4 linked regions of the Homo sapiens genome follow. The protein of the gene in region 2 purifies or fractionates together with the protein of the main gene of each other region. This does not show direct contact. Each region holds a gene or a part of one and is shown on either strand. Other genes may lie near its edges.

Evidence for each region.
Region 1: the proteins of TXNL4B (region 2) and VWA5A purify together in Homo sapiens (affinity purification with mass spectrometry; one large-scale study listed by BioGRID and IntAct). This does not show direct contact.
Region 3: the proteins of TXNL4B (region 2) and RIOK2 purify together in Homo sapiens (affinity purification with western blotting, with the first as the bait; one study listed by BioGRID). This does not show direct contact.
Region 4: the proteins of TXNL4B (region 2) and ZMYM4 purify together in Homo sapiens (affinity purification with mass spectrometry; one large-scale study listed by BioGRID and IntAct). This does not show direct contact.

The regions. Positions count from the first base shown.
Region 1 is NC_000011.10:124,142,106-124,147,597, reverse strand, and holds part of VWA5A (von Willebrand factor A domain-containing protein 5A), read right to left. Parts: intron 5,157-5,492; coding exon 5,026-5,156; intron 2,362-5,025; coding exon 2,235-2,361; intron 1,733-2,234; coding exon 1,653-1,732; 3' UTR 1-1,652. UniProt on the Homo sapiens protein: May play a role in tumorigenesis as a tumor suppressor. Altered expression of this protein and disruption of the molecular pathway it is involved in, may contribute directly to or modify tumorigenesis.
Region 2 is NC_000016.10:72,083,031-72,088,154, reverse strand, and holds the end of TXNL4B (thioredoxin-like protein 4B), read left to right. Parts: intron 1-1,352; coding exon 1,353-1,518; 3' UTR 1,519-2,979; coding exon of another isoform or gene 2,980-3,049; 3' UTR 3,050-3,298; downstream 3,299-5,124. UniProt on the Homo sapiens protein: Essential role in pre-mRNA splicing. Required in cell cycle progression for S/G(2) transition.
Region 3 is NC_000005.10:97,168,746-97,174,237, forward strand, and holds part of RIOK2 (serine/threonine-protein kinase RIO2), read right to left. Parts: intron 4,519-5,492; coding exon 4,430-4,518; intron 2,653-4,429; coding exon 2,461-2,652; intron 108-2,460; coding exon 15-107; intron 1-14. UniProt on the Homo sapiens protein: Serine/threonine-protein kinase involved in the final steps of cytoplasmic maturation of the 40S ribosomal subunit. Involved in export of the 40S pre-ribosome particles (pre-40S) from the nucleus to the cytoplasm.
Region 4 is NC_000001.11:35,386,032-35,391,523, reverse strand, and holds part of ZMYM4 (zinc finger MYM-type protein 4), read right to left. Parts: intron 5,451-5,492; coding exon 5,335-5,450; intron 4,522-5,334; coding exon 4,246-4,521; intron 4,071-4,245; coding exon 3,920-4,070; intron 2,615-3,919; coding exon 2,442-2,614; intron 1,577-2,441; coding exon 1,426-1,576; intron 1-1,425. UniProt on the Homo sapiens protein: Plays a role in the regulation of cell morphology and cytoskeletal organization.

The sequences.
Region 1 (5,492 bases), on a different chromosome or scaffold from region 2:
TCTGCATTTCTAAAAAGCTGCATTTCTAACAACCCTGTTCCGCAGATCACATTCAGCATAAACAAACTTGGAAGAAAGACTGAGAGATTAGAGTCCACTATGCAAGTCACACAAGTCTTCCTAATACCAGGTAACTCAACAACTTAAAGAAACTCAGGCCTAGTCCACCCACTTTCTGAGTGAAAAGTCACCGATGTTCCTCTAGGAATTCTGAGTGGAACTCGAAAGTGTTAATAAAGTTCTAGTTTAATCCCTTAGTTTTACAGATGAGGATATTAAGTGCCTGAGGGTGAAATCATTTGCCCATCATCACATAACTATTTAAGGGTATGGTCAGGATTCTACAGTGGTATTCTTATTAGTATCCTTTACTTGCTTCATATAAAAGAAGTCAGCCTACAACAGAAGATAGAGGGTCAGGATACCATGGGAACAGTGGAGGCATCAGAAAAGCTGGAACAGAAAACAAGGGACAATAAAACCAATGTAAGTTCAATAAATGAATCTATGGAGGAGTAGACCTCTTGCTAAGCTTTTTTTCCCTACTAAGTTTTATTTCACTAACTTCAGGTCAAATTTCCACAACTGTGTTCCGGTCAATTTACTATCCTAGTTTGGCTTCCCAAAGTGGCAGTACCAAAATATTGTGGGGTAGGGAGACGAGACCACTTTAAGAACCACTGCATTTACTCATCAAAGGGTAGAAATAGTCATTTTAATATTGATACAAGTTATTTTAAGGGACAGCATATCAAATAGGGTCATTTCCACCAGGATAGGGTATATGAGACACAAGGGTCAGGAACGATTACGGGGAGCTCCTTTCTTCCTAATGCGGTAAGTGCTCCAGGTTCAGGTCCCAGGCAAAGCTCCCATTAAGCCCACCCTTCCCTTTACTGCACTAGATCAGGGCCTGACTTAGAGGACACATAGGTTCAGGGTAGGACTAAGGATTGCATTATAGACTTCTTAAGGTGTTTCATGATTAAAGAGGAACATCTCTCTCCAACAGTTATAGTTCAACCCAAGTCTTTCAGGCAGTGGAAGAAAAGACATGTAGGTTGTACAGGCTAGCAAAGCCCAAGAAGAATGAATCAGGAAGGTCCCCAACAGTGTCACCTCTCACAGTGGACCCCTGCAGTCTCTGTCTTTGTGATCTTGACATTACATTGATCCAGATGTTGGCTTTCAACTTCCCTCTAACTCCTCCTACGCAAGCTTACCAGTATGGCCCTGATAAGTATATAAGATAGAAAGTGAACAGACAAAGATAATGCAGAAAATTCTCTAATTCAAGCATTCTCTAACATAAATGCTGCAATCTTTAGTCTGTAGTTCATGTCACCTGTTTTTCATGTTGTTTCCCTGGAAACCCTGGGAGGAACATTACTGCCTATGAATGTTTTGAACTCCCTCAAGAAAGGGAATAGGTTCTGGGACCACTGTCACTTTTCTGAGGGCATATGTTGGGAAAAGAAAGATCATATCCAAAGTGAACCTGGAGCAGAGAAGCGAAGTGGAGTAAGCATCCTTTACTTTTATGGCAAAAAATAAAGAGTTATAATACACAAGAACACATCATCACAGCAAAAGTGATACTAGAGGAAATGACAGTAGCAAATTAAAGGCACTTCTTTTTCTGGATGGTATCTTCAAAAGGCAAAGATAGCAGGATCCACAGATGACTTCAGGAAAGTAATAGCAGCTTTCACAACCGAAGGCATGGTGGAGCCTGTGGTGAGGAAAAACAAGAAGCAGGGATGAAGGATTGCAATTAGAGGCTCCTCCAAACCTCCCAGATCATCTACCCTGAGTTGTGCTTTTATCTGTCCTCAATATCCCTGCTTTTTCTTTTCTTGCTACCCAGATTCTCCTTGAATCTTCTCTGGCCCCAGATACACTCAGCTGCAGTGAGATAACAAACAGCCAGGAGAACACGCACCAAGTCTAGTCTTCTACTCAGCTTGGTACTGAGACAGTAAGGAGAATCAATGCCACTTGTCCTTCTCACAGTTCACACTCCCCATTTGTGTCCCTCTCCCTCCCTACTCACCCACCTACCTTGTCCCCAATTTAATATTTCACCCTTGTCCTCCCAAGAAAAGAACTAGCAGAAAGATTAGTAAAGATCTGAAGCAGGATGGTGGAGGCAGGTGACAATGGGACTCTCTTGTGGTCACCTTCCGCCAGGCCAGGGAAGGGGAAGGAGACAGGCCTTAGGATTGTGCTCCTACCTGCATGGGCACGCATCCAGGCCACGGCCTTCCTTTCCAGAAGCTCCCATTCACACTTCAAGTCCTTACCATTGCTGTGCAGCCAGATCACGGCCAGGATGGTGGCCCAGCCTGAGGAATCCACAAGCTGCACAGTAGATAGAGAGCTCCAGTTGGCACAGGAAGTCCCTCAAAAGGATGCAAAAAGCTTCACTCCCTCCTCACTTAGCATCCTTCTAAATGTCACTAGATGGAGTTACCTGGTCTCTCTTTACCTCCAGATACTACTTGCAAGGCATAATGCCAGGCCTTAAACCTCAGGGCAGCAATCCATTGAGTCTCGAAATAGAAAATCCTAAGTTTTAAATCCAGTGTAACCACCAGGACGGTTCTGGAAACCCCTAAGACAAGGCCAGCTCTAGTAAGAGAAACACAGGCAAAACTGCTTTATAGTTTATAAAGAACCTTCATAAGTTTTTTTTAATTGTAACCCTTATACCCCCCCACCAAAGAAATCATGAAAAAATATCAATAAACATTTTTAAGAAAGAAAACTGATTTCATATAGAAGTATTAACAAAATGATTTGCTCAAACTTAGCTGTCTAGCAAACGACAGAAGTGAGACTAAAGGCCAAATATTCTGACTCTAGTTATATTCTCTTATTTCTCAATAGAAAATCTCAGCCATGCAGCAGAAAATTGTCTCCCATGAGTTTTCGCTCACTGCTCCCAGCTTCAGCTTTCAGAGTCAGGAGATCAAGGGAAATTCCTATTTTATATCATGACTTTTAAAACTTGGAAATGGCTATCATGTCCTCTCTGAGTGGTCTTATTTCAGATTAGAATTCTCAATTCCTCCATTTCTTCCTTAAGAGGACTGCTTATGTCAAAGCAGTAAGCATCCCCACGCTTGTTCTCCTAGTCTAAAAACAAACAGCGTAATGATTTTAAAAATATATCTCCTTAAATGGTCTATCTGGAGGTAAATGTACTTATAGAATTCTACAATCACAGCCCATTTCAGGTAACCCTGTTGTCCTCCATTTCTTAGTTAAATATTCTGATTCACACAGTTGTAGTCATCTAAAACCTCTGATTTTCATGTGCAAATGCTCTCTTCTCTACCTGTAGAGTTGGGAATTTGGAACCCAAAACAGTACTTAGCTTTTATTCCTACTATGTTGTTTTTCTTTTTTTTTAATGAAAAGTTGCAACTCATTGTTCAGAGGTTTTTTGGGATCCTGATTCTTTTGACTGATAGTTTATCTCCCAGTTTTGTCATCTACAAATAGGAAAGTCTTGGTCTTTATCTTCATCTAAATCTTCATTGAAACTGTGGACCTCCAGAGAATTCAGAGCCTGGTGGGTCTAAAAATCTGTTTCATGTTTGAAATCAATTCATCATTCAGCGCCATAGGTTTTCAACTAATTTGTACTTGGTCCATGTTCTCATCATTAAAAAAAAAATCAAATTCCTTACTGAAATTCAGATATACCAGGTCTGTTGGTTCACTTGATTCATTGGCCTGGTTACCATTCCAAAGAAGGAAATGTCAGTCTGAAGTTTTTTGTTCCCAGTGCATCTAATAATCCCTGTATCCTCTTCCAAGTGTGTATGAATTATCATCTTAATTACTTTTCTAGAACAGCATTTTCCAATAAAAATATAATGCTAGAAACATATGTAATTTTAAATTTTCTGGTAGCCAAATTTTAAAAAGTAAAAGAGGTATAATTATTTTACTGATATATTTTATTTAACCCAATCTATTAAAAAGTCATCATTTTAACATGCAATCAATATAAAAATAATTATTGATGAAATGTTTTATTCCTTTTTATAAAAGTCTTTGCAATTAGTATGTATTTCCCACCATAGCACACCTCTATTGAATTAAAAATTCAGTTCCTCATTTGTATTAGCCACGTTTCAAAGGCACAATAGCCACATGTGACTAGTGGATACTGTATTGGACAGTGGAATTGCAGAATATCTGAAATTTATTTGATCTCCTTCCACATTTTGAAAGTTTAGAATGATATTTGTCCTTCAGGCTTTTTGCACCTGTCTCATGCCTAACAACTTCTCAATGAGCGTTAGAAGATTTTGTAAGTTACCTTGAAATTCTGGAATGCAATTTATCCTTATCAGCATATTTAAATACATCTGAAACAACTAGGTGGTTCCTAGTAACAACACTTTACCTATCCTGACTTCAGTTAACTTTTGCCAATGTCTGGACCACTTTCATCGGTATGAAGAGGAGCAATAATGAGGTTATTATTGGGGGTTCTCAAGACAGATACTCTTAGAACTGAATCTGGCTCTGCCACTGATGGGCTAGGTAAACTCAGACACATTTTTAGACCTCCCTGAACTTCAGTTTCTTCATCTATAAACAGCAACACAAATGGGATCTACCTTATTAAATTAATGTGTGAAATAAATAAGCTCATGAATATTAACTGCTTAGCACAGTGCTTGGCACAGAGTAATTGCTCACTAAGTATTAGTTACATAACCAAGATGATTGGCAGGGAATACGATTAAAGTGGAAGAGGATTTTTGCTTTCCCTTTGTCATCCACCAGCAAAAAAAACCCCATCAATTCCTACTAGCTTCCCCATTAATCCCTTGATCTTTCTGCTCTAACATGACTGGAAAAACCTTCAGCCTCTATTTATTACAAATTAATTTAGTCTATGACCCCCTATATTTTCCTTCCTCAGGTAGGTCCTGAATCACCTCAATTCTCAATGATGACCTCTCTCTCAAAAACATACATACTCCTTTTTCCATTGAATCTTACCTCGGCAGGCTGTGCAGCCATTATTTCTTCCAAACTCATACCTAGGATCTTGGCTAGATCTTCATTCAGATCCCAGGAACCATTTGCATTTTGGTGGTAAATCAGCTGCACAAGGTGATTCTCTCCAAAGCCTTTGAGGAGAAAGAAAAGAGAAGAATGAGAAATTGTGGAGCTATCGGCACCTCAGCACACTTGAATTTAGGGCTGCTAAATTCAGAGACAGGCCATAGCAAGAATGCAATAGAAAGAAAGTCATCAGACAACATCCAGAAGATCGGTCTTCAAACCCTACTTGTGAAAGGATGACCAGTGGAACAGGGGCTCACAGATGGTGGCAGCAGGGCTCTGCTGGGGGGCGAGGGCAGCCCGCAGGCAAGCTGTGTGAGCTGAGATGGCCAAGGGGGTTTGTTCGACTAGGGGTCACCCTAGACTCCACTGGGATAGCAGGTTTCAAGGTCCTATATGAT
Region 2 (5,124 bases):
CCATCTCTACTAAAAATACAAAAATTAGCCAGGCATGGCCAGGCGCAGTGGCTCACGCGTGTAATCCCAGCACTTTGGGAAGCCGAGGCAGGCAGATTATGAGGTCAGCAGATCGAGACCATCCTGGCTAACACAGTGAAACCCTGTCTCTACTAAAAATACAAAAAATTAGCTGGGCGTGGTGGCGGGCGCATGTAGTCCCGGCTACTCTGGAGGCTGAGGCAGAAAAATGGCATGAACCCAGGAGGCGGAGCTTGCAGTGAGCCGAGAGCGCGCCACTGCACTCCATCCTGGGCAACAGAGCTGCCGTCTCAAAAAAAAGATTAGCCAGGCATGATGGTGGGTGCCTGTAATCCCAACTACTCAGGAGGCTGAGGCAGGAGATTCGCTTGAGCCCAGGAGGTGGAGGTTGCAGTGAGCAGAGAACGCACCACTACACTCCAGTCTGGTGACAGAGCAAGGCTCCATCGCAAAACAACAACAACAACAACAAAAAAAAAACACAAAAGTATTTTAAAGCTGTTTATTCTACTGGAACACATTTGATGTAAGTATTAATTTGGTACAACCTTTTATGGGGGCCAGTTCAACATTATGTATCAAATAGTTTAAAGTTTTTAAACTTTTTAACCCAGTAATTACACTTCCAGGACTTTAATATGATGTTGCAGATGCACATTTAACAAATGAAAGAAATATATGTCAGCTAGAAAAAAGCATATTACTGAATAATTTGTATGACATAATTCCCAATGTTGGGAAAAAAGAAGTTTGTATCTGCACATACACACACACACACACACACACACACACACACACACACACACAAGATTGGAAGGATAGACACTGAAAAGTGACCTCTGGCCTCATCCGTGATTTTATTTATTTCTTTAAAATTTTTACAGTAACATACCTGGTGTTTGAGATACTTTTCTAAAAAATCAATTTTTTAATACCTACCACTCAAAAGGCCATGAATATTGAATGGGCTTTGCACAATGCCCAGGCAAAAGCAACAACAGCAAACGAAGAAACAATGTGCACTCCAACACTTGGTGAAATCTGCTTGATGATTTGAGAAGTGATAAAAATAGATTTTGTGATTACAATAGCTTTTGAAGCTAAAGCTTTGCACATGACAGAGCTTTCATGCTAGTGGCCCACAGCACTGGGTTGAGTCATTTACTAAATGGAAAAAAATGATTGAAAAATTAATGTTGGGCTTTATTTCTGAAGTCTCATTGACAAGAAGAAAATAACAAAGCTGTTTTTCATTTTGTTTATCCTGAAAGTCTTCAACAAGTGATTACTCAAAGTTCTTAGAGCAGTTGTTTCTCTTCTATGCTGTCTAGATCTCCAGATCACACTAAGTTTGTGGGAAGCTTCAAAACCAAACAAGACTTCATAGATTTGATTGAAGTAATCTATCGAGGAGCAATGAGGGGGAAGCTTATTGTCCAAAGTCCTATTGATCCCAAGAATATTCCCAAATATGACCTTCTCTATCAAGACATTTAGTACATTAATTGCTGTCAAAGATGAAGAAGAAGGCACATCTTGACACAGTACCTGAATCCAGCTGTGCTGTGTTTCTGGAGTCCTTTGGAAACATGTGTCCCAGAGGAGAAGAGGTTTGACTTGCGTGTAGAAAACCCGGCCCCTGAGGAAAAGACCCCACTGGTTCTCTGATGACCTGGGATGCCTAACTGTCTACTCCCTGCAAGCCTCAGAGCAGCCAAGTCATTGGTGTTCATTTTCCCCACAGTGATTTTTGTAACTTCTCTTTCTAATGTTTTTCTTTATCCCTTTAATACAGAACCCTCCCAAACATTGGCTAGTACAACTTGATTTCATCATGTTCATTTGATACACAAGTGAACTGGAAAGTCACTTCCCATAGAAGCAAAAGTACTTATTTTCTACCCTAGCTGGGTGCATGTGTGTGCACACACACACACACACACACCCCCACACCCCTTTGCCGGTTCCTCGACTCATACATCCCTCGTGCTTTCCCATCTCCAGTCTGTATTACTGTAGGTTCTCTTCAAATAATTAATTGAGCAGACAAGTTTGTTTTATTTTGGAGCCTTTTTGGCTCTGGCTTTTAAACATTGTCCTGGTTGGCTCATTTAATTTTTTTTTTTTTTTTTGAGACCGAGTCACTCTTGTCACCCAGGCTGGAGTGCAGTGGCGCGATCTCGGCTCACTGCAAGCTCCACCTCCTGGGTTCATGCCATTTTCCTGCTTCAGCCTCCTGAGTAGCTGGGACTACAGGCGCCCGCCACCATGCCCAGCTAATTTTTTGTATTTTTATAGAGGCGCAGTTTCACCGTGTTAGCCAAGATGGTCTCGATCTCCTGACCTCGTGATCTGCCCTCCTCAGCCTCCCAGGTGCTGGGATTATAGGCGTGAGCCACCGCGCGCACCCCATTTAATTATTTTTTATGTTATAAAATTTAATATGGAAAGTGAGAATTTGAACCTTCACCATCCACCACTCTATTCAGGTAAAACAATGAATGAGCCACCTTAGCAGGAGCAGATTTTTCCCAGAAGCTGCTGCCTCTTCCTGAGGCAGAAAATTGGATTACTAAGGCTCAAAACTAAAAGAGATGTCAGCATTGTTGGATAGAAATGTCACCTATATGGGATTTGCCTGTTTTAATAACTTTGTAAGGAATTCTTGCTCTTCTAGGGGTGCCTGGCGCAACCGTGGGCAAGTTACTGCTCCTCTTTAAACCTCGTGGTGGTTATTGAAACAGATTTATTAGAAGGAGAGGGTAGGTGCAGAGCTGGAGAGCCATGGGTGAGGCAGCTTGTGACCTGCCTAGCAGCCGCTGACCACCTCTCCAACAGAAGCCTAGTCCTGTTCAGAGCAGCACTGTCACTGCAAGTCCAGCCCCCTTTGCCAGGGGCTCCATTCCACCCCTTTCCTGCAGGGAGGGGTGCCATGAGTCTTGCTTTTGGCTCATACAGGAGAGAGGGAAGGCTGCCAGGCACTGCTTGTATCCCTGCTGATAAGAGGAGGGAGTCACTCCAGGAATAAGACAAAAGGAGAGGAGGAGGCCATCACCTCTGGCCTCTTCCATCGTACACTTCCTGTCTCTGGTTTAATCATGATGCATGGAGCTACAACAGCCATCTTAGGTCCCCGAGGTGCCCAGCATCACGTAAAACATCGATATGCTAAGAAGAACAAAAAGAGCCCAATCTCTGATGTTATTGAGCTCCTGCATGAACTCTGGACCTGCCTGCCTCAGACTTCTGTGAAAGAATAAAATTTCTTTTTGCCTAAGTCACTGTTAGTTGGGTTTTCTGTTCTTCAGCCCAGATCACACAGTATTTGCGGTATGGTAAGCACTCAGCGCACCAGCCAAAACTCAGAACCTGCGTGTGCAAAATTATCATGTCTTCTTCCTCCTGTTAGAAATAAGTTCTCTTATTTCTGAGTGCCGCAGAGGAAGAGGAGCACTCAGAAGAAAAGTTTCTCAGCAAGGCAAAGTTTACTTCTGCAGAAGGGTGCTGCCCGCGCCTATAGCAGTCGCAAAAGCACACCTAACAAAGGAGAACAGGTTTCTAACCCTAACGCAGTTCCTGCTTCTTTGTCTTTCCCCCATTGGCTGGGGTTGGACCGCACAGTCTAGGCTGACTCCAATTGGCTATGCGCTTGAATCTTTCTCAAATAAGGCAGAGGGTAAAGGTTACAGGTTAAGGTTTGGAGCAAGGCGGTTTACAGCCTATGACAAGAAAGTTGGATCTTTGAAGAGGAACCTTTCTTTTATTCTGACAATTTCCCCCTTTTTGTTGTTATAATTCTTCCTCTTCAAATTATTTTAGTAAGATTTGGCTTTGTTGCTCTTCTTGATTGTCTAGGAGTAAAAGTTGGTCTGAATATGGAGGGGGAGAGACAGAGAAGGTTTTAGTGCAAGCCATTTCTATGAGTCTTTGAACTAACCCACAAACACAAGGTGTGATGCAACAGCCTACAAGGATGAGTGCACTTGTAACAATGGCAAGGGAAGTGAGGATAGAGGCCATAAGTCCTTTCCATTTACCAAACCATCTTTTGGTTAAACCTGTGAAGGGGTCATCTATTCCAGAATTTTCAGCCAGCTCATTTGCTAGGGTGGTGAGGCCTTGTAGAGCCTTGGTAGTGGTTCCATCGGGAGCTGTGTTATTTGGGATCAAAGTACAACATTGGGCTCTGATGATTACACAAACTCTGCCGTTTTCTGCTAATGTCATGTCAAGAGCTATCCTGTTTTCCCAGGCCATTTGGCTGGTGGGACCAAATTGCTCGGCTATCCCCAAATGGTATCTCTGGTATAATTAACAAATCCTTGTTGATTGTAATATATATAGTTTATCCAGTCTACGTTTTTGTTTATAGTAGACCACCAAAATAAGACTGACTCAAACCTGGCAGCTATTTGATTTCGAGCTTTAAATTCATTGGCGGCTACTCGTGGTACTCCAATTGCCTCTATATAGACATGGGGGTCAAAAGACCCTTGAGGAGCTTCTCTTTCTTCCCAAGAGGGTGACTTTTTGTCGGACTGATGAAATGCCAGGGTGAAAGAGATGGCCAGTTGGATTAGAGTGCAAGTGCTGCTCCAATTATTTGGCAGCATACCCAGTAGAGGTCCTCCACAATACCACCAAACATCTGCTTGTGGATAGACAAGGGCAGTCTGATTGGTGAGCTCTCGAAAAGGCTCGGATTCACTGCATCCCGTTAGATTCCTGAAAGATGTAAGTTTTCCCCGTCATGAGAGACAAGAGGTAAAATTGGCATCAGAGGCCAGGAGCCAGATGGCCCTTGGGGGCTGACCCACAGGGAAGTCTTTGACTTTTGGGAAAAGCAGTGAGAGACTGGTGCATGACTTATTACCCCAGGCTGTGGGGTGCTGGAAGAGAGCTACTGTACAGTCCATGCCCGGTTGGTTAGACCATCCAAGCAGGAAGGGAACTATTTGGATTTCTGGCCTGCCCATTGCACAGGCATAACAGTCGCTTTTATTTAAAGTGCAAACTGAATATTTGATCCATTTCAGCCAGGCATTCATTTCTTGGTGTCCGGTCTCGATGGCCAGGGTTTGTTTTAGGTCTTTGACTTCCACT
Region 3 (5,492 bases), on a different chromosome or scaffold from region 2:
TGGGGAGTACAAACCTGATATCCTTAAAAGTTGGAAAAAGCTCACTTTCGTAGCTGAAACGTTTCATAAAGAAATCTTTAATGCATTTAACATCTCTGTCAAAATACCTGCAAAAGCAAGAATCATTTATGATATAGTCTTTATTGCTCCTCTTTTTCCTTATTAGCCAATGACAATATACTTATTGGTTAATGGTATTGCTCCTCCTTACACAAGGAGATAAAAGATGTTACACAAAAGAAAAAAGATACAAATGAGTTAACCAGTGTGTTTGAAAAACTAAAATCCAAGGAAATCTCAAGGATATAAGCTGTCAATGCCATGCAGTTCCTACGGTTAGGAAAGTCAAGGTTTTGTCATAGTTACTGGTATATAGTTAGATACACTAGGGAAAGATGAATGTGAACCCCAGGAAATAAGATAATGGGCCTATGGTTTGGGGATAGGTTTCCACTTATTCTGTTCGTCCTGAGTCTGGCTATGCTTCTTATCAGCAACACTCACTAGAACCCCTAGCCAACTGAAAGATCTGACGATAAAAAGATATTAATATTAAACAGTTAAGTTTGGAGACTACTGAATTATGTTTATGTATCTTTGTTATCCATTAGCCGATTTGCAATAACACCCAAAGGGATAAATAATGCTACAGCCTATAAAAATAATCTGAGGACATGTTAATCTGGACCAAAAGTAGAACAATATCTGAATATCAGGCTGCCTTTTTGGGCCACCACAAAGCAGCAAAAATGGATTCAATTCTCTAGAAGATTTCCAGACAAGGGAGAATTAAGGACAGGATAATGTGCAATTGACTCTCTTTGAGAAAGATGAAGTTTGGAAATAGGAAGATAATGCCTCTCCTCTTTGCTCACAGGGTACTCTGGGAAAAATACTAATACATTTTAAAAAGACTATTTTATATATGTTTACATCTCCCTACGAGACAGTAACATTTTCTAAAGCATATATAGGGGTTATTTATATCTCAATCTCTAGCAATTAGCACAGCTCCTTGGCCCCAGAACTGGTTCATAAAAATTGAAATTAAATCACAATGTCTCTCCATAGAACGATGCAGCCTAAACCTAGAATGTCATAATCTGTCACACTCTGGAGGCTCCTAGATGTTCCTTTACTGTGTGACTATGTTACTCCTTATTAATAAAAATCATGATTAGTCATCATCCAAAGAGTACTGACCACCCCAGTGCCAGGCATTAATCTTTTAGTATTATTTTGTTGAAAACGTTTTAAAAATTTATTTTCAAATGACATTTCTTTCTGTAGCATAAGTATAGACATTTTCTACTGGAAACCAGGATGAAGAGACGCTTCACTTAACAAAACTACTTCAAGCTCAATCTCTGGAAGAATTAATATACTCTATTATATAAGTGATACTAGTTGTTAGTTTAGGAAAAAAGTTTCTCATAAAGCTTGGAACAGAAAGAAAAAAAAATCCTTAGTTACACTCAATTGAATCATAAACCTCAAGCAAATAAAGGATAAGGTCCTGTTTCATGACTTGGCTGGCTTGGTTTAAATAAGTAATGTGAAGAATATGATTATCGCAGTATATCATGATTCTGCACTGTGTCAGAGATAAAGTTTTATGTGATTTTTTTTCTAATAAATAAAGCTAAAAGTGACAAGAGGTAATTATCACTGGTTTGACAACTGAGTCCAGTCCAAAACCACAACTTTTATTCAGATCATCGAGATTACTGAGTTATACTTGGTGAATCTCTCTTGGAGGCAATCATGGAACAGCAAGAAAAAGGGAAAGACAAAAGTGGTTCTAGAGTTCCCCACTACACTCCCTACTTTTACCTGTTTTAACAATTGGTCTTCCATCTAAAAGTCTGTTTGAACAAAGGGTTCCATGGCTAAGAAAATTTGACTTTTGAACGTCTGTCAATTTACAACAGAGAAATTCAAATTCTTATGGGGAAAACTCTAGTAGTTATACTTTAATAAAAAACCAAATTTTTATAACGTTAACACTAGCCACTTCAAACCAGTGACTGACCTAAATAATAGTATCACAAAATTGAAAAATTATGAAAAAATGATTATATTCTAAACAAACACACCCACATCCAGAATCAATAATAGCATGTAAGGGCCGGGCGCAATGGCTCACCCCTGTAATCCCAGCACTTTGGGAGGCCGAGGCGGGTGGATCACCTGAGGTCAGGAGTTCAAGACCAGCCTGACCAACATGGAGAAACCCCATCTCTACTAAAAAAAAAAATACAAAAAATTAGCCAGGTGTGGTGGCACATGTCTGTTATCCCAGCTCCTCGGGAGGCTGAGGCAGGAGCATTGCTTGAACCCGGGAGGTGGAAGTTGCAGTGAGCCGAGATCGCGCCATTGCACTCCAGCTTGGGCAACAAGCAAAACTCCGTCTCCAAAAAAATAAAATAAAATAAAAATAAAAAAATAGCAAGTACGTACCACTCAGCATTGGGATGAGAAGTTGAAACCATCTGTGGAAAATCAATCATGGTGATATGGTCACTTTCATCCAAAATGAGATTAAATTCATTAAAATCTCCATGAATCAGCCCATGATTTGCAAGTTTGACAATTAGTTCCATAGCTTCATCATATACTGATGCAGGATCTTCAACATGGTGTATCTGACATCTGAAAGTATTTTAAGCATGAAAATAGGTTACTTGTGTTCATTTACGGTTTTAACGAAAGTATGTATGCATGTGAACATATATATTATTTCCATGCTGTGTATCCCCAGCAGCTTTCTTCTCATTCCCATCAGCACACAGATATAATATCTCCCATCTATTAAAAAAATAGCCACACTGCTTCAATTCTGTATCTCTTTTCTACTACTACCTTTCTTTGATCTTTACAGCCAAACTTGTCTACATGTGCTTTTCCAATTTGTTTCCTCCTACTCTCTCATACCATTTCAAACAGGCTTTTTATAACGTTAACACTAGCCACTTCAAACCAGTGAGTGACCTAAATAATAGTATCACAAAATTGAAAAATTATGAAAAAATGATTATATTCTAAACAAACACACCCACATCCAGAATCAATAATAGCATGTACGGGCCAGGCGCAATGGCTCACCCCTGTAATCCTAGCACTTTGGGAGGCCAAAGTGCTTCCAAGATCACCCTTGTTGAGACTACAATGACTTCAATGTTGCTAAATCCAAAGGTCAATTCTTAGTCCTCATCATATGTGGTCTGTCAGTTGACCTCTTTGAACATTTTCTTCACTTAACTCTTGGGACACCATTCTCTCCAGGTGTTCTTCCTTCCTCACAGATCATACCTTCTTAGTCTTTTCTATTTGTACTTCATCTTTTTCCTTGACCTCTAAATTCTGGAGTTCCTCAAAGGTCAATCCTATGACCTTTTATTTTCTCTTATTTAGACTCATTCTTGGTGATCTCATCTAGGTTAATGGTTTAAATACCACATATACACTGATTTTAATGTAGACTTCTCTAACTCCCAGGCATCTCAAACTTAGCATGTCCAAAATGGAATCTCTGATTCTGTCCCACCCTCCAACTCCAAAATGCTGTTCCTGTAGCTTTCCTGTTTCTATACATGGTAGATTTCTCCTTCCAGTTAATTTGCTACTCAGGGGAAAAACCTTGGTGTCACCATTGACTCATCCCTTCCTTCACATCCATATCCAATCTCAAATCATGTTGGTTCAACCTGCAGAACACATTCAGAATCTGACCACTTTTCATCACCTTCACAACTATCACTGTAATCAGAATTACAACCATTTCTTGCCTAGATTATTGTAATAGCCTCTTAACTTGTCTTCCTAATTCTTTGTCTCCCCAGAGTCTATTAATTCAGCAAGCAGAGTGACCCTCTGAAAACACTGAGATCACTGATTGATGAGATCACATCTCTTCTCTGCTCAAAATACTCCCACTCCAATAGCTGCTAATCTGAATCAAAATTTGATGAGGTTTCACCTTATTAGTGAGACTTTTCTTGACCACCCTACATAAAACAGTAGTCTCCTGTCCCGTTAGTACTTCCTATCTCCCTTACTCTGCTTTTTTTTATCCATAGTACTTACTAACAATTGATATACATTTCCTTTAGTTATTTATTGCACATCTCCTTCCATCAGAATGTAAATTCCATGAGGGCAGGGACTTTGTTTTGTTCACTGCTGAGATTAAAAGTTCCTGGCACCTAACAGTCTCTTAATATTGAATGAATGAATGAATCACAGAGATTACAAAGTTCATATTGTCAGAATGAAACTGGGTTTTTAATTTGTCTTTGAGTCTATTCCTTTAAATAAATTTTAACCTCCCAGAGGCAATATTTCATTAACTAAAAAAAATTTTATTAAAAACCCTGAAACTTAAATTCATTTATCAGGATTCATGGCTTTAAGAATAATGAATACTTACAGTGGATAACCATTTATGAGTTCCATGACCACTGCATGACGATTGTAATCAATTGGCTTTGGAACTGGAAATTTCCTCTCATACAATGCCTAAAATGTTGCAAAACAGGTGTAAGCTAATGAACAGGTCATTACTCTTTAAAGAACAATAAAAGTAAATATACCTTTCTACAACCAGAAAAAAAACACACAAACCTTTATAAAATTGTAGTTAACACATGGTTATTTATGCATAGCTTATTTATTCACTGCGTAGAATTAGCCACACATAAAAAGCAAATTTTAAACAAAAGTTTGAATTCACTTTTCCACAAAAAATGAACATTTACAAAATGTTATGCACTGTGCTGGGGTTACAAAAATGAATGTTAAAAAGTTTCTAAACACTCTAAAATTAGTGTCAAAAAGCCCCCAAGAAGCTTACAGTCTCTTAGGGTATATCCTTTCCTATTTTGTAAGTCTCTGACATTTGTTGAAATGTGCTCAAAATATTTAAATTGGAAACAAATTTAGGAAATACTCATCTTCGGACATATTAGGAAATGAGGCATTCTAAGAGATCAGACATTTTGGTTTATAGGGCACTGAACTTTTTCTCCAGGCCACAATATGCAATATAAATCTATTATGTGAAAAATATACACTGTTGTAGTCTGATTCAAGTGTTAAGACTCTCCATACATCTTTTCCCCTAAGCTTACTGTCTTCAATCTTACTGTTTACAAAGCCCTGTTATTACTTTCTTTAAAATACCTTAGATTTATGCCCTTTGACATTTAGAATGCTAGTATTAGGAATGGCAAAAACTGCAATTACTTTTGCACCAACATATACTTGTAAGGAGGCATATACCTCATTACTCCACAAGTGTTCTAGCTCTTGCCATCATACCTAACCTATTCTATGTACCAATACCAGACTAACCTGCTGATGTTAATATTCCATTTAAAAATATATACATTGGGATGGGCATGGAGTCTCACGTCTGTAACCCCAGCAATTTGGGAGGCCGAGGCGGGTGGATCAGTTGAGGTCAGGAGTTCGACACCAGCCTGCCAGCATGG
Region 4 (5,492 bases), on a different chromosome or scaffold from region 2:
GTAGATTTTGCTTTTATTTGTAAGGAGACTACACTTAAATTCTTCTAGCTTTCAGGATGATACTAGTGTTGTTTTTAAATAATAAATTTTCTGAGATAAAGTGGCCTAGCACATAGTGTGTAGTCCTGATAAGATAAGTAAGTCCTGACAAGGTAAGTAAGCAACAAAGAGGAAGGGGCCCAGGTGGGGGAGAACAATGAGTAATTACTCTGAGAGATGACCTCCTACAGGTAGCCCCAGGAGCACGGCTACATTCTGCAAGCAGTCCCCTCCAGCAGGACCATGTAAAACGTCCCTCAAGCCGCTGCGTCTTTGCAGACTTCCCCTTCTCTGCTGTGCTGCTCACTGCAACCTTGCAACATATTTTCACACTTTCTCCAATAAATCTGCCTTTACCTATGACTGTCTTGGTAAATTCCTTTACAGCCCGTGACACTGGCCCCAACTAGTCACGCCCACGACATATAGTTTTATTTTATTTTAATTTTTTAGAGGCAGGGTCTCACTATATCATCCAGCTGGGATTGCTGTGCTGTGGTCACCGCTCACTCCACCCCTGAACTCCTGGCCTCAAGCCGTCCTCCCACCTCAGCATTCCAAAGGCGGTGGGATTACAGGCATGAACCATCACATCTGGCCTGCACATGGTATATTTAAAAGGCCATGTGATTTTGACTTTATGTCTTTTGTTATAAGTAGTCTCAAAGGATTTTTTAAGGAAGCCAATTATACTCAATTACAAACCATTAACTGTTATCCTTTCCCATAAATTTAAGTTCTTACAGAGTTTATTTGATTCAATATTCTCAAAGAAATCTATTTAATCAAAAACTCATTTTTACTCAGCTTTAATCTAAGGTGTCAGGCCTCTGAGCCCAAGCTAAGCCATCATATCCCCTCTGACCTGCAGGTACACATCCAGATGGCCGGTTCCTGCCTTAACTGATGACATTCCAACACAAAAGAAGTGAAAATGGCCTGTTCCTGCCTTAACTGATGACATTACCTTGTGAAATTCCTTTTCCTGGCTCATCCTGGCTCAAAAAGCTCCCCCACTGAGCACTTTGTGACCCCCACTCCTGCTCGCCAGAGAACAACCCCCCTTTTTCCTTTACCTACCCAAATCTTATAAAACGGCCCCACCCCATCTCCCTTCACTGACTCTTTTCAGACTCAGACCGCCTGCACCCAGGTGAAATAAACAGCCTTGTTGCTCACACAAAGCCTGTTTGGTGGTCTCTTCACACGGACGACAGTGAAATAAGGTGTTCAACAAAAAAAGCTAAATGTTATTGATACAGAATACAAGGAAACTGAGGTTTCATGAAATTAATGACAACTGTTTACACAGTTCCTGATCTGTAAAAGAACAGTAGTTCCTAGTATTGACCAAAGACTCCATTCAGTACCTAAGGTTAATTTTACCTGCATTATTTTGTGAAGGCGGGTCACATACACTTTGCTGATTACAGAACATCAAGATACAAAGCAGGTTACAGAAATGTTTCATTTCCCCTCGCCATTTCAAGGACTCACTGAGTTTACCCTGTCGCTTACAAGCATCACATTTGGCCATCTAAAAAGAAGAAGGTAGTCAAGGAGTAAGAAACAAATTATCTGTGGTCTGACAAAATAAAAATAAGACACACATAACAAGTGACGAAATTAACTTAGAATTTAGATCAAAAAATTAGTTTGTCTTTATCAATGATTATACACACACACACACACACACACACACATATATATATATATTTTTTTTTTTTTTTGAGACAGAGCCTTGCTCTATCGCCCAGGCTGGAGTGCAGTGGCGTGATCTCAGCTCACTGCAAGCTCCACCTCCTGGGTTCATGCAATTCTCCTGCCTCAGCCTCCCAGGTAGCTGGGACTACAGGCGCCCGCCACCACACCCAGCTAATTTTTTTGTATTTTTAGTAGAGACGGGGTTTCACCATGTTAGCCAGGATGGTCTCGATCTCCTAACCTCATGATCCACCCGCCTCGGCCTCCCAAAGTGCTGGGATTACAGGCGTGAGCCACCGCGCCCAGCTGATTTTATACTAATTTTTTTTAAAAAACACATGTAACATACAGACTTCACTCTATAGCAATTAAAAAACAAAGTGAAATAAAAATAAGGTCTATCTTCCTCAGACTTCAGAAGACAAATTCACTTTATTTAAATAATAAGTGAATAAAATTATAAGTTTAAATATTTTAATGTCTTAAGACTGATATGTCTCCTACAGGAAATTAAAAACAAAAGAAAACTTCAATAACATTAAAGTCTTTCTAAATCTTATATTAATTGCTAGAAGGCATAAAACATTTAATACTTAAAAGTTTTAAATAATTAAATTGTCCTTTATGTGACATGAAATTTTAAAAGGGAATAATTTATGCCCTAGAATGAAAAACCCAGGAATGTGAATTCTATTTACCTGATAGAACAAAACTGTATATTTGGACATGCATTCTTCACAACAGAACTCTTCCACTTTCCCTCCTAAATTATTCTGTACCAATTTGGGAGATGTCTGTAAACAATAACTGCACATTTTACAGTGATTTCCCCAGCGTTTTGCCAAGTCATGTTTATAAAGCAATTTGCAACCTAAAAATCAGGAAAGATAAAATTAACATTAGGTAGAAGTATTAGTTTTCTGCAACTTTAAATGGCCTAGGACAGGCCCGGTGCAGTGGCTCACACCTGTAATCCCAACACTTTGGGAGGCTGGCGGGAGGAGTGCTTGAGCCCAGGAGTTTGAGACCAGCCTGGGCAACATGGCAAGACCCCATGTCAAATAAAAACAAAAACAAAAAAAAGAAAAATAAGTGGTCTAGGACAAAGTTTTCACACTTGGGTCCTGACCAGTTCACAGAGTATCTTGATTTTTTAGAGTATCTATACTAGTTTTTGTTTTGCTTTGTTTTTGTTTTTGTTTTAAATGATATAAGACAGGATAGCACAGAAGAGAAAATATTAAACTGCATCGATTTTATTTCATGAAACTTTTGGGGCTGGGCGTAGTGGCTCACACCTGTAATCCCAGCACTCTGGGAGGCCAAAGTGGGTGGATCACCTGAGGTCAGGAGTTGGAGACCAGCCTGGCCAACATGGTGAAGCCCTGTCTCTACTAAAAATACAAAAATTAGCCAGGTGTGGTGGCGGGTGCCTGTAGTCCCAGCTACTCGGGAGGTTGAGGCAGGAGAATCGCTTGAACCCAGGAGGCAGAGGTTGCAGTGAGCCAAGATCGCTCCATGGCATTCCAGCCTGGGTGACAAAGCAAGACTCTGTCTCAAAAAACAAAAACAAAAACAAAAAAAACTTTTATTTAGGTATGTGAAAATATACTGGGTCACAGTGTAAATGTATTTCTTCTTTGGTGTTATCAAAAGGTTTGAAAGCCCTTGCTCTAGAAGGCTAATACAGCTTTAGAGTAAAATAAAACATTATAAACATATAGAAGAGTTATCTAAGGAAAACAATCTTCCACATATTAATTTGCATATTCAAGCCATTTATATTCAGAAATATAATGGCTGTTTAAGACAATAAAAGTATAAACTTAGAATGTTACCATAATTTAAGGCATCCCATTTAGAAATAAGTACACGAACTAGAAGCTCTTTGAGGTCCCGATCAACCTAATAATGGGGAACCTAAGGATGTTAAATGTTTTTCACATCATCTTCTTCTGCATTATACTTTGCAAATCTTTCACTTCATTTTAACAGCTACATAATATAAGAAAACTAGATCAAAAAAGAATGAACTAAGTGTAAATGAATCGAAAAGGCATTTACGTTATACATAAACAATAAAACAGATTAACTTAGACAGTGAAAGCTTAAATCATCATCAACTGCTTTAAAACAACCAACATGCTCAGTAGGTAAGATAATCTTCTGTCTTTACCTTCACTACAGAATGACTTGTCAGCACCTGAGAACCGAACAGTCTCCTTTACAATTTTCTCAATTTTACAATATTCACACATTGCCATTACATTATTTATTTTCTTATATTCATCAGAACAATTCTTGCCACAGAACTGAAACATTTTGCCCTGCAAAGAAATAATCATTAAGTACTAATTAAACATTTGGTTTGTCTTATGGAACTCCTTATCTCCCTTACTTTCAAAACAAATGGTATGATTTTGAGAGATGCAAAGTTAAAAATAATTTTACAAATAGACCCACGTATACTCAAAATCTTATCATGAACATGCTATACTTTACCTTATAGTCAAGAAGTTCTGGTTTTGTGGCAAAAAGACGGTTACAGTGTTGACATTTGAGTTTCACAACACTTCGTGCAAACCCAACATGCTGGGACTGGGCAGCGAGACGCTGGAGACCAGCTGCAGCAGAGCTACTGATGGAGGTGGGAGAAACAGCAGATGTGCTACCTCCTCCGGCTGACACTGTGGAACCTGTGGGGATGCTTACAATTACTTGGCCCTGAGACAAGGGCACTACTGAAGAATTCATTCCAGTTGGTTTGTTGAATAAATTCTGGAAAAACAAAACAACAAAAAGTATCAATTTAATCTTTGTTAAAACAAAGAAGTATTGTGTGCCTACATATGCCAAGCACCGTTCTAGGCATGTAAGGTACATCTGTTAACAGGCAATGTTCCTGCCTCTGAGCAGCTTATTACGGAATGGGGGGAGTCTCATTTATGATGAAAAAATAAAATAACTTAACTAATAATCTTCCTCAAAAATAATATCCTCCCAATAGATAATATGGGTGATAAAAGTACCATTCAATTTTATAGAAGGCAGTTAAATTAAATTCCAAATACAGAATGAACTACAAATCCAAGTTTAATAGGAATGATATAGAAACTTATACAACCCAGGCCCTAGCAAACACCTAATAAATGTGCATTACTATAGTAGGTGATAGGTTTGAATTCGTGTCCCTGCCCAAATCTCATGTCCAGTCGGTAATCCCCAATGTTGGGGGAGGAGCCTGGCAGGAAGTGACTGGATCATGGGGGTGGATTTCTCCCCTGCTGTTCTGGTGATAGTGAGTTCTCACTATCTGGTTGTTTAAAAGTGTAGCACCTCCCGCTTCTCTCTCTTCCTCTTGAGCCCATCATGTAAGACGTGCCGGCTTCCCCTTCGCCTTCCGCCATAATTGAAAGTTTCCTGAGGCCTCTCCAGCCATGCTACCTGTACAGCCTGTGGAACTGTGAGCCAATTAAACCTCTTTCTTTATAAATTACCCAGTCTAGGGTATTTCTTTAGAGGAGTGCAAGAACAGACTCATACAGTAGGTGACTCACTGACTGAAGAAGAGGAAGGTTCCTGAAGCCATACCTGGAAAGCTACCACACAGCTGTAGCTGCAGAAGTTGCGTATACTTCCATCTGACATGGCTAGGTGATACTGAGGAATTGCTGAGGTTTTACAACTGTTACACTGAACTTGTACACCTTAGCAAATCAAAATAAAAACCAATGAGTAATATGTACAAA